Regions from separate parts of the Homo sapiens genome. Here all the other regions are linked to region 1. Evidence: fine-mapped expression QTL. A gene starts in region 1. Each other region holds a variant in brackets. All regions are shown on one strand. Distances are from middle to middle.

What was found. PIP is the estimated chance that this variant, and not a neighbour inherited with it, causes the effect.
Region 2: its variant is the best candidate, but not a certain one, in a credible set for the expression of UBAC1 in visceral fat (GTEx, PIP 0.79).
Region 3: its variant is the best candidate, but not a certain one, in a credible set for the expression of UBAC1 in lung (TOPMed, PIP 0.69).
Region 4: its variant is the best candidate, but not a certain one, in a credible set for the expression of UBAC1 in whole blood (INTERVAL, PIP 0.66).

What each region holds. Positions count from the first base shown.
Region 1 is chr9:135,958,840-135,964,117 of GRCh38, forward strand. UBAC1 (UBA domain containing 1) reads right to left here and starts at 2,534. Exons shown (of 10, transcript NM_016172.3): 1 at 2,186-2,534. The coding sequence starts at 2,323. RefSeq lists silencers at 2,144-2,263, 2,274-2,683 and an enhancer at 2,154-2,654.
Region 2 is chr9:135,927,614-135,932,891 of GRCh38, forward strand. No RefSeq gene overlaps it. Among named protein-coding and RNA genes, the nearest start is that of CAMSAP1-DT, 22 kb to the left of the region's middle. RefSeq lists an enhancer at 4,098-4,597. The variant C/A (reference allele first, on the strand shown) is at 2,214.
Region 3 is chr9:135,935,844-135,941,121 of GRCh38, forward strand. UBAC1 (UBA domain containing 1) reads right to left here. Exons shown (of 10, transcript NM_016172.3): 8 at 3,830-3,916; 9 at 2,379-2,517. Among named protein-coding and RNA genes, the nearest start is that of UBAC1, 23 kb to the right of the region's middle. The variant C/T (reference allele first, on the strand shown) is at 2,020.
Region 4 is chr9:135,837,763-135,843,040 of GRCh38, forward strand. All of the region lies in intron 7 of CAMSAP1 (calmodulin regulated spectrin associated protein 1), which reads right to left. Among named protein-coding and RNA genes, the nearest start is that of CAMSAP1, 67 kb to the right of the region's middle. The variant G/A (reference allele first, on the strand shown) is at 2,080.

The DNA of each region.
Region 1 (5,278 bases):
TATGTCGGCTCTTGCGGTGTGAAAATCCCCTGCTACTCAGATCCTCCACACCTGTGGAAACCGCAGAGTGGGATACAATCTCAATTTAAAGTAGAATAATGACAAAACATCCCAAATGATACATCTCAACACCAAATGGAATAATATATATCAGGAGTATAATAATTAGCATTGCATCGGAACTGGCTGCCTAACTGACCCTCCGTGCTCCTGAAATTCATGAGTAGGTATCTGTGGATCAAACAGCTCTCATTTCCTATTTCCTTTCATAAAAGAGTATCATGATGGCCATGCACATCGCACCGAGTGAGTTAAAGTAAATGCCGTGCCAACGCAGGGGACATCCCATGTCGATGCAGTGTGGGGTCCACAGGATATTTTTGTCTATTCCATTAACCCACAAGTTTGTTTTGGTGCCACTCTAAGCCCGGCCCTGGACTTGTGGATATAAACCGAACCCCTGAGGAGCTTCTGTACTGGCTCAGGGAGGACACAGCAGCACCTCAGAGAAGTTTCTAGGGTTTTTTGTCTGGTTTTTTTTTTTTTTTTTTTTTGAGACGGAGTCTTGCTCTGTCGCCAGGCTGGAGTGCAGTGGCGCGATCTCATCTCACTGCAACCTCCGCCTCCCGGGTTCAAGCGATTACCCTGCCTCAGCCTCCCAAGTAGCTGGGATTACAGGCACACACCACCACGCCCCGCTAATTTTTTGTATTTTAGTTGAGACGGGGTTTCACCATGTTGGCCAAGATGGCCTCAATCTCCTGACCTCATAATCCGCCCACCTCGGCCTCCCAAAGTGCTGGGATTACAAGTGTGAGTTACCGTGCCCGGCCCAGAGAAGTTTTTTAAAATACACACAACTAGACAAGCAACACCACCTGGCTCAAACAGCCTGGATGCCCACGGAGTTACCGGCGCTGGAGCTTAGTGATGCCCCGATGGTTGTTCAGACGGCAAAATCATGCAGACTGGGGCAGAAGAAAAGCAAGAAAGCAGCCAAAACATACCGGCCCTTGAACGCAGGAGGCTCAGCCCCCTCCTTGGTGTGAATCCTGAGGCCAGCACCTCCCAGTTATTCACAGCCAGTGCGTTCCAGAAGGGGGCTTGCCAAGCTTGCCTCTGACAGTTCCAGAACTCCACAGAACCATGCTCACAAAAGCAACTCGAAAGTACTGTATGCGAGCAGCTACTATGGTAAGAACTGAAGTTTATCCTTAGAGACCACACTCAGCTCAAGTGTAACGCACTCAACCTGTCAACACAGATACGTCGTAACTTATCACATGGAGTCGCCACTAGAAAATTGCAGCCTCCTTCAACCTAAATTCTGCCAAGCCCTCAGATCATGTCAGGTATAGACAGGAGGTCAGTCTGACACACAGACAGGCTTCTTAGCTGACCTTACTGAGTCCTTTAGAGACTCGAGAACTAGTTCCAAAAATCAGCAACCTAAGGAACTAAATACACAGGAGTATTTCAGGTGAATAAACTTTAAAAAGTGTCTCCGCGAGGAGACCCTACTCCTGGGACTTCTCTCTTGACCAATTTTACCTCTGCAGAAAAGCAGGGGCGCAGGGCCTTGTCCCGCAGCGGCACTATTTCAGGGACTCCAGCTAAAAGGCACAGTGGCCTGGGGCCAGCCAGGAAAAGAGCTCCAAGCAGCCGGCTCTGCGGGAAAGGGGAAGAGGAAGGAGAAGGGGCCTCTTCATGAAGGAGCCTACGTTAATTCTCAGCTCTCAAAGATGCTGCTGAAAAAAAACCTCACCCCAACAGCAAAAAGGTACAACTGCCGGAAAGTCCCGAGGCCCTGCTCCGTCGGCGACTTCACTCTCCAGGCCTCAGTTTCCCGATCTGCCCCTACCTCCCTGCGTGGCTGCAGAGTTAACTGAGAGGCTGGCGTGTACAGGGCTCGGCCGGGCGGCTGGCACGGGGCGAGCGCTTAGTGACCGGAGTCCGCCGGCCGAAAGGCCAGGCCCGGGACGAGCGTCCAGAGGTGTGGGATCCGAAAGGGGGAGAGTCGGGCAAACGGGCAGGAGGCGCTGCCTCCACCCCCGGAGGAGAGGGCCTGGGAGCTGCGGACTGGGCGGCGGACCCCAGGTCGGGGCGGTTCGGGGACTGAGGCGGGGTCCGCAGTCGGAGGGGTCCGGAGCGGGTGTTGGGGGCAGGGGAGGGGGCCCGGCCTTACGTGCTTGAGGCAGCGCTCCTTGAGCTTCTCCACCGAGGTGTCCTCGGTGGCCTCCTCCAGCCACTCGGCGCCGTCGGACGCGCAGATGTGCAGCCGCAGCACCTTGCCCGCGAAGATCTTCTCCTCCTGCACGAACATCCCGCCGCCGCCGCAGGGGCCTGCGCCCGCCACCCGGGCCCCTGAAGGTCACCGGGAAGGCGGGCGGGGAGGGGGCGGGGCCAGACCGCCCGCGCGCTCCTTCGCTGGGCCGCCGCCCCGCCCCGGCTCCCGTCGGCCGGGCCGCCGTCACTCTCCGCGGCCTCAGCGGTCGCCTCGCTCCCGCCGCCGCAGCAGCCGCCGGGGGCGCGCCGTCGCGGCCGCACCGGAAGTGCGTCACGGGCGCGTCTGGCGCATGCCGGGAGATGTGGTTCTCGGACAGGCGCCTCGCTCCCGCCGCCGGGGGCGCGCTGTGGCCACCGCAAAGGAAGTGCGTCACGGGGCGCGCCCGGAGCATGCCGGGAGCTGTAGTTCTCTGGTAGCTTCGTTCCTCCCCGAGCTGCAGGCGGTTCCCACCCGGGGCACTCACCACGTGGGACCTCATGGGTTCTAAAGGTAAAATACACGCTGGATCCCAAAGAAGTAACGGGAAAAAGGAATGTAAGGCATCTCGATAATGTTTTCATATTGATTACATGTTGAAATAATATTTTGTATCTATTGAGTTAAGAAAAATATGTCATTAAAATTAATTTCACCTGTTTCTTTTAACCTTTTTAAGATAGAATTTTAAATTGCCTACATGGCTGCTGTGATATTTCTTTTGCACTGCACTGCTGTAGAACGGAGGCTCTCCAAAGAACTTGGCTTTAACAAGCCTAGGTCTTTCTAATTCACACGCAGATCAGAGAGTCACTGTTCCTGCGAAGCCTAGGTTTGCGGGGCACCCAGAGGGGAGGGAAGCCGCCCTTGGTGCAGGTGATGCCAGGCAGACTCATTTTCTGTGGGGTGTGACAAAGAGTCTTTGCTTGGCCAAACTTAAGCAGGCTCCTGAACCTTCTACATCATCTGTACACTTCCTTGTAAAATCCAGTTTTAGCGAAGAGCCTTGATAAGTGAGTTTAGCAAGAACTCCCAGCCTCAATATCAGATCACCCTGGACGTCTGGTCAGGTTCCTCGTCCCCCAGGTGCTGTCTGATATCTCCAGCCTCTCTTCAGCAAGAACCCTGTCAGGTCGGTTTAGCCAGAACCGCCCACATCCCTGATGTTTTCTCCTATTAATTTTCCATTCACTGACCCCACCCACTTGCCCTTGCTGTATTGGGAGTTGAGCCTGACCTCTCTCCCCACTGCAAGCCCCCTTGGCAGTGGTCTCTGTACCTAGCTCAACAGTCCTGGATAACGTCTTACTTACCATGCTCCTAAATATGAATTTTGTAGTTCAGGTTAGACCTGACACATTGACTGATCTGTACTCATTCATCCCATTCATTTAAAAAAACTTTACTGCGCAGAGATGAATAAGGCACAGTTCCCGTTCTCAGAGGTTAGCAATCTAACCGGGGAGGCTGTCTCTGCCTCCTGCCTGCAGGCTTTTATTCTGTCCACACCATTTTGCACACACATCCTCATTTTTCTCCTGTGATAATTCCAACCTCGTCCAGATTCCATGTGTCCAGTTCAGCACTTACTAATTGCCTCTCACAGGTGGGAGCCTCTGCTACTCAATGAAAATATGGTAGTGATTAAGACCAGACACCAGGATACAGTCCTGGAATGGGGCATTTTTAACGCAGGAAGCAGAAGTACCGACTGTTAGAGACCGCAGTGGAGGTGGTGGTAGTATCGTGGAAGCTGGTGGAGGAGAAAGGGGAGGAACACCAAGGTGGTGAGTGGAGAGTGGGGGAAGCTAGAGGGCTTGGAGGAGCCGGGTCAGAGCATTAAGACGTTGCTGTGAGAGCCACTAACGGTGTGACCAGGTGGCAGAATGAATGGTGGTGACTGTGGAGGGGACAGGGAAGAGGGCAGGGCATCCTTGCGGGGGAGCAATGCGGAGGGAGAGGAAGAGGAGAAGGGGGCTTCCAGTGGCCTGTGGGAGGGGAGGCCAGCAGGATTGGAGGGTGTGGGCCCAAGAGTGAAATCAAGGATGACTTGAAGACTTCCAGTGTGGGTGGCAGAGTGCAGGGCAGTGCCACCTTTTGAAGTAGGAGGCAGGAGGAGGAGCCATTGGCCAGGAAGGTGTTGGGTAGTTTTGGACACGGGGACCTGGATGTGCTGGGGGCATTCACACGGAGGTGGCCTGGAGGCAGCTGGACCTACAGGACTGAAGTTGAGGAGAGAGGCCTGGGCTGGAGACAAACACTGGGCAGCCGGCCTGGGCCACGTAGCAAGACCCTCTACAAAAAATAAAAAAAATTAATGAGCTGGGCGTGGTGGTGCACACCTGTGGTCCCAGCTACTCAGAAGGCTGAGGTGGGAGGATCACCTGAGCCCAGGAGGTCCAGGCTGCAGTGCGCCGTGATGGCACCACTGCACTCCAGCCTGGGCAACACAGCAAGACCCCGTCCCAAAAAAACAAAACAAAACAAAAAAGTCAAACCAGTCATGAGCACACCAGCGGCAGCTGGAACTAAGAGGATGCCCACCCCCCTTCCCATGCAGAGGAGCTCATGAAGAAAACAGAGGAGTATGGTACTAGGAAAGTTCCAAGAGTGTGGCTCCATGAAACACAAGGCGGAGAAGATATTGAGGAGAAAATGGGGCCTGTAAGAGAAGAACCAGAAATATCACGTCATCTCAGGGAGCGTCTCCAGGGACCGGAAGGGGACTGGGGCCCAAGCCTGCCTGGCTGCAGATCTGGTATCTGCAGCCACAGTGATGCTGCATAACAAAACCGTCCTAAAACTCAGCGGGTAAAACAACCAACAGCTCTCCATCACTTCTCACAAGTCCACGGCTGGCTGGGTGGTGCTGCTGACCAAGCCAGGCTGGCAGGTGGGCTGGTCGGGATCCCTAGGCCCTCAGCCTCGGTCTCATGTTCCCCAGTGAGTTCCCACGGGAGTGTCTGGGATCCACCGCAGCAGGTTTTTCAGCCTTTGCTTGAGCCATGTTTGTTG
Region 2 (5,278 bases), 31 kb before region 1:
GGACAGCCGGAAGGGAAGCCAGGAGGCCTTGCTTGGGGAGCTGGGCACACGCCTGGCCTCCCCGTGATGCTCCCCTGGACGACACACGCACGCACACATGCACGCCTGTGCATGCACACAGAGCACACATGCACACACACGCACACCTGTGCATGCAGAGCACACGCACACACACACAAACCTGTGCATGCACACAGCATACACGCATGCACGCCTATGCATGCAGAGCACACATGCACACACATGCACGCCTGTGCATGCACACAGCACACATGCACACACCTGTGCATGCACACACACACATACATGCCTCTGCATGCACACAGCACACACGCACACCTGTGCACGCAGAGCACACACGCACACACACGCACGCCTCTGCATGCAGAGAGCACACACACACACATGCACGCCTGTGCATGCACACAGAGCACACACGCACACCACACCACCACACACACACTTCAAAAACCACACACGGGCGACGCCGCAGGCAGAGTGTACCACAGCCCCGCAGCTGCCACCCCTGCCCTCTGGGAGAGTCCGCTTCCGAGCTCACTTCGAGGAGGATCTTTCTGGCGACAGAGCCAGTGCTGTGGGCGGGAAGGCCCCACCTGACCACACCTCCTGCTCTGTGGCACCTGTGTCCCCGCCACCCCCCAGCCCGAGTAAAATCATTTCTCTAGACTCTGCGGCTGGGCCCTGGAAGTCAGGCTCTCCCCGACCTGCCAGGGCAGTGCCTGCTGCGGCGGAGCCTGGACACCAGGTCTCCTGTCTCCATCCATCTCCACTCAAGGACAGGGGTGCAGGTCCCAGAGCTTTTGTCAGGACTCTGCCAGCTTGCAGAGCCGCTGCGGCCACAGGGCTCATGGTCCCAGGCCTGCTCCACCACGGCCCTCGGCAGTGGCCCTGATCCCTGGCTGTGGCCCTGGTGCCCGAGGCTCACACCAGGGCAGGAACGTGCTCTTGGGTGTGGGTGGGGTCCACTCTGACAGGGACCTGGAAGGGCCCTCACAAGTCTGGGATCCAGGCCCTTGTCATTCAGGAGCCCAGGAGGGGTCAGCCAGGTCCCCAGAGGGGAAGGGGACGTGCCTGGGCTGTGAGGTCCACAGCCTCTGGGTGAAGCAGAGGCCAGCCCAGGATGGGGCTCACAGTTCTCAGGAGCCCGGGAGGTGGCACTGGGAGGGTGGGCATCCCCGCCCACCCCAGAGAGGCCAAGCACAGGGCAGGAGTGTGGCCACACGGCCCAGGGGGCGCATGGCTGCTGAGAGGAAGAGCGCAGTTGCCTGGGGGAGGCTGAGCACGATGCAGGGTGGACAGAGACCCCACTGCTGGGCGAGAGCCAGGCTCATGCCCTGCTGGCGCCAGAGCCTGCCCACAGCCCAGGGGCTGCCTGGGAGGCGCGGGAGGACCACACTTGGGGCCCTACACAGGCTGGGACTCATTCTGAGCCCCTAAGGACAGCTTGTGGGTGAAGGGAGCCCCTCTTGGGAATGTGGAGAAGAGAGTGGGGCACCTGCTGGCCAAAGAAAGCCCTGGGCCCACCCCCAGTTATGTGGGCAGTGACAGTTGGGGACAGGGCACTCAGCCATGCTCCCCGGCGACTGCTGGGTGATGAGCAGCCCAACCGCAGGCCCTGGCCCTGCCAGCCCTGGGCTTAGGCTGAACCCGTCAAAAAGGCCCTGCCTGGCCTTGGAGAGCCCACCGTGCCCTGCGGGGTATGAGGCTGGCAGACCCTTGAGGACCAAGCCAGGAGACATCCCTGGCGGAGACTCGATCCCAGGAAAGTGCCGGGGGTGCACTGGCAGGTTCCCCTGCAGGAAGCCAGCTCTTGGGAGCCCAGAATGCAGGCACCACCCCACAGGGGGCTCCCTCAGACTCCCTCGTGTGCCAAGCCAGTGAGCCCGCCTGGGAGTGGGGCAAGGGTGGACCTCACTTAAGTGCAGCTGTTCAAGGGGAGACCGTCAGGCGGGAAACCAGAGCGAGCTCTGAGAGAACGTCGAAGAGCCACTAACTGCCTCAGACCCCCGCCCCCAGCCCTGCCCAGTCTGCAGCATCCAAACCCTTGTCCCCCAGAGCCACATGGCTGTGTTCTCTGCCTGGGAGTCAGTCCCCAGCCAGGCACCAGGCATCCTCACCTGGAGGCAGCTGTGCCTTCCAAGCCTCCACTGGGCACAGAAAGCTGCTTGCAGGTGCCACACCCGACTCCCGGC[C/A]CTAACCCGAGAGAGAGCCCCTGGGTGGGCGGGGGCACCCCTGGGCACATGCTGTCTCTGGGCGGTGCTCTCATGGTTAGGAGGCTCGGCCACATCTGCACATGAGGGTTCCTTCTCTCCAGCCTGTGCTGGGCCCAGAACGCCAACAATGCCCTTCCTCTGGCTGAGGCTGTGCCCAGCGCATGAATGCTCTGCCCACCCCACACCCTGCAAATGGCAGCTCATCCTCCTGCCTTCCCGTGGGACCAAGCATGCCTCCAAGGGCAGCGAAGGGCACGGGGGCGAACCCCACAGCTGGGCTGAGGCTGACCCAGGCAGGCCCCACCTGCTCCCCGGATGCACTGAGGCCCCCGATGGTGCTGTCCCCACACCCCCAGCAGGAATGTCCTCTGGGATTCAGGCTCCTGCGGTCTCTGGCTCCCATGCTCCCTGTCCCAGCCCCACCTCCCACCCGCCTGTTCCAGCGAGTGTTTTCCAAGTGCCTCCACAACCAGCCAGCCCTGAAACGGGACGGAGCAGGGCCCTGACCTCGAGAAGGATGCAGGCTGGTGGACCCCCAGCCTCTCCCACATCCAGTACCTCCCGGAGCCCCCCAGTCCCCACCAGCTGACAGTGAGCCCCACCCCTGCCTTCAGACTCCTCACCCGGGGTCCCACCGCCATGCCAGCTCGCTGTAGTGGCCCAAGTGGCTGGGCCACCTCTCTCTGCACCTGGGGGGAGGAATCCCCTGCTTGTGTGGACGGCGCCTACAGTCGGCACAGCAATGTCCTGACCCCACGATCTCAGGGGAAGTCACCCCTCCAGCAGCTGAGCCACGCTGTCCTGGAATCTCAGCATGATCCCACTCCACGAGGAAACGCATGTGTCATCGCCAAGCTCGGCCACCGGAGCAGGAGGGAATGCTGGCCAAGTGAGCCATCTAACTCCCTCCACCTTCCCTGGCACACAGGTGACCTGCCTCGGCATCACACCCTGGTCTAGAGCCCTGAGTATGGCCACAGGGCACTGCCCAGGGGTCCTGCTCCACAGGACCCCGGAAGAAGAAAAACGGCTTAGCAGAAGCTCAAAATGACACAGGTGGCCCTTATCTCAACAGAGCAATGTGCACCGGAACATCTGTGTACGACCCAGCGTCCCCGACCCAGCACCCACGCCCCCCAGAGCCAGGCAGCCTGGCCCCATGGGCTGAGAAGCCACTTGGCCCTCAGCAGCTGGAACACAACTGCGCTCAGGGCCAGGCTCGGCCAGCTGCCTGCCCCTAGTTCATGGGCCACTGTGGCGAAGGCACACATGGACAGCAGCGTTACTGGTCATGGAACTGAAGTCCACGTAAACGAAGAATTTCTAGAGTTTGCCGGCCATTTCATTTCACCTTGTAAGATACAACCTCAGCCCTAAAATACGCGTGCCAGACACAGGCTGTGTTCACAGGGATGGTGCCTCGCCCATGTGTGCGCTGATGGCCTGGCCCAGAGAAGCGGCAGGACTGCAACCAGGCCCAGAGCACTCCCCACCTCCCCAGCAGCCGCTGCAGGAGCAGAAACCACATTCACCAGGGCAGCTGCGACGTGCTCCAGAACCCATCTACGGACGGCCCGCAGCCCCTGGGAAGGCCTCGGCGGCACGTGGTGTTTACTCACCCAGAACTCCACAACTGCATGCAAACCGCGACCAGGTTAAAACGTGGATCCACGCTCACCAGAGGACAGGGCTGGGTGAGAACGCGCATTCCCGACCTCAGGGCCTCTGGGGACTGAAAGGCGGGCGCGGCAGAACACGGGGCTAGCGGAGGAGGCGCACCTGGAGAAGCTGCATGTGCAGGACCAGCCAACGGGAGCGAACGCAGCATCTCCGAGGAAAGGCACTGGCACACACTTCCCTCCTCATGGCCACATCAGGCAGGTGTTGGTGTGGCCCCTCGCCCACCTTGTGGACGCTCAGGCCACAGCAAGATGAGCCAGGCAGCCAGCGAACCCGTGGAAAGCACGGCTCCACAGCCCGCAGGAGGCGGGCTGAGGACACACCTGTCCAGAGGTTCCTCGGAAGGAATTTCCCAACTTTGACTCTTAAACTCGCTGAGGAGAACATTCTCTTCCGACTCACAAGTTTGCCAAAAGAGGATGGCGGGCAAGGAGGGCACTGTGGCTGGCTAGACCCTGCTGACGTGGGGCGGGCCGAGGGCCTGTGGCCTGGCAGCAGGGTAGTAGACAGGCATCTTTTTTTTTTTTGAGACTCCGTCTCAAAAAGAAGTGAGATTCGCTACTTTTTTTTTTTTTTTTGAGACGGAGTCTTGCTCTGTCGCCCAGGCTGGAGTGCAGTGGCGCGATCTTGGCTCACTGCAAGCTCCGCCTCCCGAATTCACACCGTTCTCCTGCCTCAGTCTCCCAAGTAGCTGGGACTACAGGCACCCGCCACCACACCCGGCTAATTTTTTGTATTTTTAGTAGAGACGGGGTTTCACCGTGTTAGCCAGGATGATCTTGATCTCCTGACCTCGTGATCCGCCTGCCTCGGTCCCCCAAAGTGCTGGGATTACAGGTGTGAGCCACCGCGCCCGGCCGAGATTCATTACTTTTGAAAAGCATTTTTAATATTTCTGCCCAAAGAGTTTAAATTAACTTTAGTTTTAAATCTAAATCTCAAAAACAATGAAAAGACCTAGATGTGTGGAGAGAAACATTTTCCGAAAACATTCTTACTCAGCTACAATGCAAGCAGAGTTCAGAAGGGGAGGGGGCTGGTTCAGAAGAGAAGTTCAAAACAAACAGCTCGGAACTGACTGCTTCCAGCAACAATAATGAGCAGAGTTCACAAAAAACAAAATAAATTCATTTTCTCATTTTAAGACACCGGTCATGTTTTTTAAAATGAAAAAAAAGGAGGAAGAGGCCAGAGGTAGGCGGAGGCAGCCGTGCTTGGGCTCAGGACCTGTGTCCCAGGAATACGGGCTCAGCTCCAGTCCCTTAAACCCAATACAACACGAGGCTTTGCCAACCAAACATGGCCACAAGGCCTCCCACATGCTGCGGTGGCCCCGGTGCCCGCCCCGGGTCAGAGCAGCCGGC
Region 3 (5,278 bases), 23 kb before region 1:
GTGAAACCCTGTCTCTACTAAAAATACAAAAAATTAGCCGGGCACGGTGGCGGGCACCTGTAGTCCCAGCTACTCAGGAGGCTGAGGCAGGAGAATGGCGTGAACCCGGTAGGCGGAGCTTGCAGTGAGCTGAGATCGTGCCACTGCACTCCAGCCTGGGTGACAGAGCGAGATTCCATCTCAAAAAAAAAAAAAAAAAGAGGAATACAAGTTAAAACAATGAAGGTCTTGTCTATAATATGGAGGTGGGCAAGTGTGTGTGCTGGGGGCAGATCTTGCATGGACAGTGGCGCCATCACTGCACTCTAGCCTGGGTGACAGAGAAAGAGCCTATTTCTATTAGGAAAAAAAAAAGAAAAAGTTATTGGACAGACCCCAAGGCAGCACACACTAACATCCTAAGGTATACAAACAGCTGGAGAGCTAGGAGGAATATGCTTTCAGTGTGAAAGGAATCACTAAGAATAAAAATAAACTCACAAAAGACCATTCTCAAGTTTTAGAATTTGGGTACAAAGAAGATCCCTACCTCACACCACACACATACTTCTAGGTAGATTATGGACTTAAATTAAGAGAAACTTTTAACATTTTTGGAAAAAAAAATAAAAGGAAAACGTGTTTCTGACTTTCGGATAGGAGGGTTTTCCTTTTTCTTTTTTTTTTTTTTGAGGTGGAGTCTTGCTCTGACGCCCAGGCTAGAGTGCAGTGGCACGATCTCGGCTCACTGCAACCTCCGCCCCCCAGGTTTAAGCAATTCTCTGCCTCAGCTCCAGAGTAGCTGGGATTACAGGTGCATACCACCATGCCCAACTAATTTTTTGTATTTTTAGTAAAGACAGCGTTTCACCATCTTGGCCAGGCTGGTCTTGAACTCCTGACCTCGTGATCCACCTGCCTCAGCCTCCCAAAGTGCTGGGATTACAGGCGTGAGCCACCACGCCCAGCCATGGAGGGTTTTCTTTAAAGGTTCACATCTTAAAAAAAATACAGACACACTGAAGGACATCAAAACACGGGATTCTGCCCATCAGTGTGAGGAAATAAACCAGAAACTGAACAACGGCATCTGCAACACAAATAATGGGAAAAGGGTCAGCATCCAGGAGGTGAGGACCTTTCTGAATGAATAAGAAAACAATCCAAGAGAAAAGCAGGCCAAACGCTGAGCGGAAGGTCTCTCACAGCCAAGGTTCTACAGGCGGCCAATACGCTTCTGAAAGAAGGCCAGCCTTCAAGATCAGGGCACGGCCATCGCAGCTCCAGAGACACTTCCAGCCTGCTCGGGTGGCAAAGGCCCTCCCAACATCCAGGAACTCAGCTCCTGGGGACCAACAGGTCTGTAATCCCAGCACTTAGGGAGGCTGAGGCAGGTGGATCACGAGGTCAGGAGTTCGAGACCAGCCTGGCAAACATGGTGAAAGCCGTCTCTACTAAAATACGAAAAATTAGCCAGGCGTGGTAGTGCACGCCTGTAATCCCAGGTACTCAGGAGGCTGAGGCAGGAGAATTGCTTGAACCTGGGAGGCGGAGGTTGCAGTGGGCCGAGATCATGCCATTGCACTCCAGCCTGGGTGACAAGGCGAGACTCTGTCTCAAAAAAAAAAAAAAAAAAAAATCAGGAGTGGCACCACATGTAGACAACCCAACGAGCCCTGGGTTCCCAGTGCCTTCCATCAAGAAAATACTCCACAACCCCCACAAAGAACGCAGTCAGTCACAGAGGCCTGCTTAAAACATGATTCTACTTACACAAAGGCAGCAGCAAATGAGAGATTGTTTAAGGAGACACAAATACGGCAAAACTCTACCGGGAAGCAGAGAGGTAAGCCGCGGCCACGGCGACGGCCACACCGGAGGGAGGGATGAGGTGCATAGGGGAGGGGCACCCCAGGCCCAAAGCTGAATAGTAGATACATGGCTATTAGTTTTATTCTTCTTTAAAGTTACATCATCATATACACTTTTGTATGTACGTATCTCACAATAAAAATAAACCATTGCCATCGAAGACCCTGA[C/T]GAGTAGTAAGAGCAAAAGCCCAAACCACACCTTGTCCTCCCGTGAGTTCCTAAGCTGCTGGCGCAGTCTCCACCCCGCTGGCCCTCGGAAAGCCACTGGCACTGGTTTTCTGAGGCCTATGTCAGGGTCATCGCGCAGGAGACAGTCACACCACGATCAGAACCTGACCTGCGGGCCCCACAGTGACGTAGCGGGACTACACCCGCAGGATGCCAACCTGCATGGCAGGACGTGCTGCCAGCGCACGGCGATCCTCAGCGCTGGATCCTCCGTATCGCCTCCGCAGCACCTATTTGTCCTGCAAGGGAACCAGCCAGCCTCCCCGACCCGAGACTTAGCATAAAGAAGGCGCACATACCTAGCAATGTTTTCGGGTTGGTCAGGCCCAGCTGCACCACCGGGTTATCCAGGATGGCCTGAAAGAGAGGACTGTCGGGGTCGATGCCCTTGTCCAGCTCCTCCGGAGAGGGCTTCCGGTCCCCCAGCAGCCACTCGCACTGCAAAGCCAAGAGCACCAATACCACTGTTAGCGCCTTCAGTGCCTCCGCAAGACGCCACCAGCAGCAGGCATGACAGCTCCTGCACCTTTCTGTGAGTTCCTGTTGAGCCCCCAGGGCTGATCTCCCTGGAAGGGACTCTACCGTGAAGACAAACGCAGTCTGGATTCACTGCCGTGCGTGTCAGACCAGGCCAGAGAAGGAAGAGCTAGTCCGCTTTTCTCTGCAGACCCTGGTGTCGCAGGGATCACTGACTGCTGCCGCTTCCCCACTTACCTGGGCCAGTGTGGCCCACCCAGGAGTGTTGGGAAGGTGATTAACAAATGTACCAAGTGCCCAGCTTGCCTGTGGTCCTGTTATGGGCAGTCAGCAGTGCTGGAGCCATGAGGACACAGGCTCCTCATCTCTGTCTTGGAGGTGTGAGCCACGAACTCCACTGGCACGGGGGATGGTGGGGGGGGGATGTGGGCCACCACAGGGACCTCCCCAGGCACAGCTCCATCAGCCCAGCTGGCACACGGGCACAGGACGGGAATCATTCTTGAGTCAGTTTAATCAGAAAAATGGGCTGGGAGTGGTGGCTCATGCATGTAATCCCAGCACTTTGGAAGCCAAAGCAGGAGGATCGATTGAAGCCAGGAGTTCAAGATCAGCCTGGGCAACAAAGGGAGATCTTGTCTCTAAAAAACTAATTAGCCGGGCATAGTGGTGCATGCCTGTGGTCCCAGCTACTCAGGAGGCTGAGGCAGGAGGATCGCTTGGGCCCAGGAGGTCGAGGCTGCAGTGAGTGTGATCACACCGCTGCACTCCAGCCTGGGGGACAGAGTGAGACCCTGACTCCAAAAAAATTAAAAAAAAAAAAAAATGAACAAATTACCCATCCATAAAATATGTACATATAAGGCACCCTTTTAAAAACCTAGAATTCCGTATTTTTAAATTTTTATACTGTTTGAGCCATCTATCCAATTGTCTCACTTTAAAAGCCACATAGCCGGCTGCATGTGAAAGTAGGCAAACACACGGCCTCCACCACGCCCGGGGCGCTCACGAGTGAGGCTCCCAGCACTCGCCCAGCCTGACACACTCACTCACCACAGCCCACACTCACAGCCCACACTCACTCACCACAGCCCACACTCACTCAGCCCACACTCACTCATCACAGCCCCCACTCACTCACCACAGCCCACACTCACCACAGCCCACACTCACTCACCACAGCCCACACTCACTCACCACAGCCCACACTTACCACAGCCCACACTCACTCACCACAGCCCACACTCACTCACCACAGCCCAACACTCACCGCGGCATTCTGCTGGTTGTTGTTCACTCTGAGGGCATCTATCACCTCTTTCTCGTCGAACCCCATCTCCATCAGGGAAATGACGGCCTAGAGGACAGCACAGCCGTTAGCTCGCTGGGGGCGGCAGGAGGCCGAGGAACCAGTGACCTGCGTGCAGAGGGGCCCGCTCCCCGCACCCTAGCGGAGGGTGCTCCCAACAGCACTGAGGACGCTGTCCGTCCACGTTCTTTCCTCACAGCTCTGCTAAAACAGATCTTGGTTTTCAGCATCCTAAAGCCGAGGAAGTGCAGGGATGACTGTAGTTAGCAGAGCCGGGGGGCAGTGCAGCTCCCAGGCTTGTCTTCAGGGAGCCACAGGTTGTGACAGGTAGAAACGCATCGCTTATGTGGACACGAGGCAGTCAGGCCAACTTCAGACCCTTTCAGGTTTGTCCCGATGACTGTGTGGATAAGACTGTCTCGGCAGCCACCGCAGGTTTACCCCAGAGGGCCTTGTTACCCAAAGAGAAGTGGCATTAGGGAAAGGCCACGTCAGTAAGTGCAATCTCAACGGAAACAAAAATGCCATTGTAACCTGTGAAAAAAGGTTTTATTCAGATTTTATCTTAGAAAAAAAAAAATCCTAGGGCCGGGCGCGGTGGCTCACACCTGTAATCCCAGCACTTTGGGAGGCCGAGGCAGGCGGATCACCAGGTCAGGAGATCAAGACCATCTTGGCTAACACGGTGAAACCCCGTCTCTACTAAAAATACAAAAAAATTAGCTGGGCGTGGTGGCAGGCGCCTGTAGTCCCAGCTACTCGGGAGGCTGAGGCAGGAGAATGGCATGAACCTGGAAGGCGGAGCTTGCAGTGAGCCAAGATCGCGCCACTGCACTGCAGCCTGGGCGACAGAGCGAGACTCCATCTCAAAAAAAAAAAAAAAAAATCCTAAAACTAATTTTTTAACTTTTAATATTGAACAAAACTTAAGCTACAACTGAACATATGCTAATTCGTTTTTGGGGAAGGACATACATTTTCTGGACACAATTCATGTAACAAGATAATACATCCTCTACTCTGGAGATTTATACCACAATGTTTAAAGGGGTCCATTTTGAAAAAATATAAATAAGTAAGATGAAGGCTTCATCAAAATTTCAAGGGCCTCTCCTAATCCCTGAAAGGTCAGATCCCACTCTCTTGAAGCCCCCAGAGTCCTCTCCATCTTTGGCAGTTTTCCGGCCACCATAAGGTGGTCTAGGGGTGCCAGCCCCACACAGCTCCCAGCACCACCCAGGCTGACTTCATGCAGCACTGCACCCCGCGGACGGTGCACGTCCACAGCCAGTCTGGACTGCACCATCAGATGCTTCCAAGAGAACCTGGCAGAAAAAGACTTCAGCTGGGGTGGAGCTCAGGAAGGATGCTGGCTAGAGCTAAACTGTGTGCATGATCAGGTCAAAAGTC
Region 4 (5,278 bases), 120 kb before region 1:
ATCATCACGCACTTTCTACCGGTTCTACAGACACGTCATCACGCACTTTCTGCCCGTTGTACAGACACACGTCATCACGCACTTTCTACCCCTTCTACAGACACACGTCATCACGCACTTTCTACCCGTTCTACAGACACACGTTATCACGCACTTTCCACCTGTTCTACAGACACACATCATCACACGCTTTCTACCCCTTCTACAGACACACATCATCACACGCTTTCTACCCCTTCTACAGACACACGTCATCACGCACTTTCTACCCCCTGTACAGACACACGTCATCACGCACTTTCCACCCATTCTACAGACACACGTCATCACGCACTTCCCACCCATTCTACAGACACGTCATCACACACTTTCTACCCGTTCTACAGACACACGTCATCACGCACTTTCCACCCGTTCTACAGACACACGTCATCACACACTTTCCACCCGTTCTACAGACACACGTCATCACGCACTTTCCACCCATTCTACAGACATGTCATCACGCACTTTCTACCCACTGTACAGACACACATCATCACGCACTTTCTACCCCTTCTACAGACACACGTCATCACGCACTTTCCACCCGTTCTACAGACACATGTCATCACGCACTTTCCACCCGTTCTACAGACACACATCATCACGCACTTTCCACCCGTTCTACAGACACACATCATCACGCACTTTCCACCTGTTCTACAGACACACATCATGCACTTTCTACCCCTTCTACAGACACACGTCATCACGCACTTTCCACCCATTCTACAGACACACATCATCATGCACTTTCCACCCCTTCTACAGACACACATCATCACGCACTTTCTACCCGTTCTACAGACACACATCATCACGCACTTTCCACCCGTTCTACAGACACACATCATCACGCACTTTCCACCCGTTCTACAGACACACGTCATCACGCACTTTCCACCCGTTCTACAGACACACATCATCATGCACTTTCCACCTGTTCTACAGACACACGTCATCACGCACTTTCCACCCATTCTACAGACATGTCATCACGCACTTTCTACCCCGTTCTACAGACACACGTCATCAAGCAGTTTCTACCCATTCTGTAGCCACACGTTCGCCACGTACCTTCTACCCTGTTCTACAGACACACGTCACCACGCACTTTCTACCCATTCTTCAGAGACATATCACCACACACTTTATATCCGTTCTGCAGACACACGTCACCACGCACTTTCTACCCTGTTCTATAGACACACATTGTTACGCACTTTCTACTCCATTCTCAAGACACACATCATCACACACTTTCTACCCGTTCTGCAGACACACTTCGCTACACACTTTCTACTTGGTTCGGCGCCCTTCGGTTCTGCTCCTGTATGAGCCTATCTGTCTTTCCTGAGGAAACTGATTCATCCTTCCCATACAAGCTTCTTCTCTCCCTGCCTCCCTGCTGATGCAGAGTGTATGAGTCCCTATTTCTAGCTACTCAGCAAGCCACTGTTTCTGTGCCTGCCACATGCATATGAATAGCTATGAGTCTGTTTGTGTCCGTATTTCCTCCCAACAATGCCCAGTCTCTGGGACCAGCAACACTAAGGTGAGCATGCATGGCAATGGTTCCCCAGTCATTCCCAAAGGGACCACCAGCTACGTTCCCAGATGAGTATGCACTGGGAAAGGGAGGGGTCATCACATCCCATGGCCTACAGGTATCAGTGGAGGGAGAACATGCCACAGGAGTCTCTGGCAAGTCAGCTGGGAGAGCACAATGCAAGATCCCGGGACTGTAGAGCCACAGAGAATCACGCGACATTAACAACAGCCCCTGATGTGCACAGGGTACTGTACGCCTGCTGACAGTGTGTTCAGAACTGCCCATCACAAGCTGGGTTCTGCCACCCACTCACTCCAGGGCTAAGGCCGAGTGCACCCATAAGACGGAGTTGTGCCTTGGGACCGAGCCTGCACAGGAGCAGGGGCACGAGCTGCAGGCATACACAGCCCAGACCCTCACGAGCTACTGCCAGGGCACCAGCAGCCCACCGAGCCCCTCTCTACAGCCACACAAGGGCCCCTGAC[G/A]ACCACAGATGGAAAAGGGGAAAGCCTGGGCACAGTTAACAGTGGGTCAACTGGGAATGCAGACAAACTCTGCCATCAGCCACTCTCAGGCCAGGACAACAGACACACACATGAAGCAGCCAGAGGTAGGCAGGTATGGAGACTAAGAGCACAGACTACCACCTGCCAAGACCAGTGCTGACTCCTAATATGGCACCGTCCTGGAGAAGACCAACCAATCACTAGGCAGCAAGGTAACTACAATGGACCCCTTGCAGCCTGGAAGGGCCAGCAGTTCACTTTTCCAAGAGCAGCCGTGCATTCTGCACCTGAGTGTTGGCCTCTCCTGGCCATAGGGTTTCAGCAGGCATCACTACCCAACGGTTGGCAGTAGGACCCACTGCACAGGGCCCCACATAATACTGTATCAGACCAGAGACACTCCCCAGCCTCGGAGGTGCAGAGCGGGCCCATGACTCTGAGGTCCCCCTCCCCCGCTATGTCTCATCCCAGAGTGAACTGAAGCTTAGCTGCTTCCTAGCATTCCTGACTCCTCATTCCTAAGGACCAGCAGGCAAGAAGAGGAGCCCCGCAAGAAGAAGGGGGCTCCAGCCATGACTCACGACGGGGTCCGATGGGAAGAGGCCTTTCCCACCAGGCAGAACAGGTGAAACCACCTCACAAGCAGCAGGAAAAACAAGACTTCCTTCTTGAGCTGGACAGTATCATGAAAAGGGTGAAGAAAGGCAGGAGGAAGGTGGCTGGCAAGATCAAACAGCTCCAATCTGCAGCTCCCAGCAAGATCAACACAGAAGGCGGGTGATTTCTACATTTCCTACTGAGGTACCCAGCTCATTTCATTGGGGCTGATTAGACAGTGGGTGCAGCCCACAGAGGGCAAGCACGGTGGGGAATCACCTCACCCAGGAAGCACAATGGGTCGGGGAACTCCCTCTTCCAGCCAAGGGAAGCCGTGAGGAATGGTGCATTCTGGTCCAAATACTATGCTTTTCCCACAGTCTTCGCAACCCACAGACCAGGAGATTCCCTTCAGTGCTTACACCACCAGGGCCCTGGGTTTCCAGCACAAAACTGGGCGACCATTTGGGCAGACACCGAGCTAGTTGCAGGAGTTTTTTTTCATACCCTAGTGGTGCCTGGAACGCCAGCGAGGCAGAACTGTTCATTCCCCTGGAAAGGGTGCTGAAGTCAGGGAGGCAAGTGGTCTAGCTCAGTGGATCCAACCCCCACAGAGCCCAGGAAGCTAAGATCCACTGGCTTGAAATTCTCGCTGCCAGCACAGTAGTCTGAAGTCGACCTGGGGTGCTCGAGCTTGGTGGGAGGAGGGACGTCCACCATTACTGAGGCTTGAGTAGGTGGGTTTTTCCCTCACAGTGTAAACAAAGCCGCCAGGAAGTTTAAACTGGGTGGAGCCCTCCAGAGCTGGGCAAAGCCGCTGTAGCCAGACTGCCTCTCTAGATTCCTCCTCTCTGAGCAGGGCATCTCTGAAAGAAAAGTATTAGCCCTAGTCAGGGGCTTATACATAAAACTCCCATCTCCCTGGGACAGAGCACCTAGGGGAAGGGGTGGCTATGGGCATAGCCTCAGCAGACTTAAACATCACCGCCTGCTGGCTCTGAAGAGATCAGTGGCTCTCCCAGCACAGCGCTCAAGCTCTGCTAAGGGACAGACTGCCTTCAAGTAGGTCCCTGACTCCCGTGCCTCCTGACTGGGTGTTTACCTCCCAGCAGGGGTCAACAGACACCTCATACAGGAGAGCTCCGGTTGACATCCGGAGGGTGCCCTTCTGGGACAAAGCTTCCAGAGGAAGGAACAGGCAGCAATCTTTGCTGTTCTGCAACCTCTGCTGGTGATATCCAGGCAAACAGGGTTTGGAGTGGACCTCCAGCAAACTCCAGCAGACCTGCAGCAGAGGGACCTGGCTTTTAGAAGGAAAAGTAACAGAAAGGAATAGCATCAACATCAACAAAAAGGACATCCACACAAAAACCCCATCCAAAGGTCACCAACATCAAAAACCAAAGGTAGATAAATCCACAAAGATGAGGAATAACCAGTGCAAAAAGGCTGAAAATTCCAAAAACCAGAATGCCTCCTCTCCTCCAAAGGATCACAACTCCTTGCCAGCAAGGGAACAAAGCTGGACGAAGAATGTGTTTGACAAACTGACAGAAGTAGGCTTCAGAAGGTGGGGAATAACAAATTCCTCTGAGCTAAAGGAGCATGTTCTAACTTAATGCAAGGAAGCTAAGAACCTTGAAAAAAGGTTAGAGGAATTGCTAACTAGAATAACCAGCTTAGAGAAGAACACAAATGACTTGACGGAGCTGAAAAACACAGCACGAGAACTTCATGAAATATACACAAGTATCAGTAGCTGAATCGATCAAGTGGAAGAAAGGATATCAGAGATTGAAGATCAACTTAATGAAATAAAGCATGAAGACAAGATTAGAGAAAAAAGAATGAAAAGGAACAAACAAAGCCTCCAAGAAATATGGGACTATGTGAAAAGCCCAAACCTACGTTTGACTGATGTACCTAAAGTGACGGGGAGAATGGAACCAAGTTGGAAAACAAACTTCAGGATATTATCCAGGAGAACTTCCCCAACCTAGCAAGACAGGCCAACATTCAAATTCAGGAAATACGGAGAACAGCACACTCCACGAGAAGAGCAACCCCAAGACGCAATCATCAGATTCACCAAGGTTGAAATGAAGGAAAAAATGTTAAGTGCAGCCAGAGAGAAAGGTCAGGTTACCCACAAAGGGAAGCCCATCAAACTAACAGCAGATCTCTCTGCAGATACCCTAAAAGCCAGAAGAGAGTGAGGGCCAATATTCAACATTCTTAAAGAAAAGAATTTTCAACCCAGAATTTCATATCCAGCCAAACTAAGCTTCATAAGCGAAGGAGAAACAAAATCCTTTACAGACAAGCAAATGCTGAGAGATTTTGTCACCACCAGGCCTTACAAGAGCTCCTGAAGGAAGCACTAAACATGGAAAGGAAAAACTGGTACCAGCCACTGCAAAAAGATGCCAAATTGTAAAGACCATCAACACTATCTATGAAGAAACTGCATCAACTAACGGGCAAAATAAGCAGCTAGCATCATAATGACAGGATCAAATTCACACATAACAATATTAACCTTAAATGTAAATGGGCTAAATGCCCCCAGTTAAAAGACACA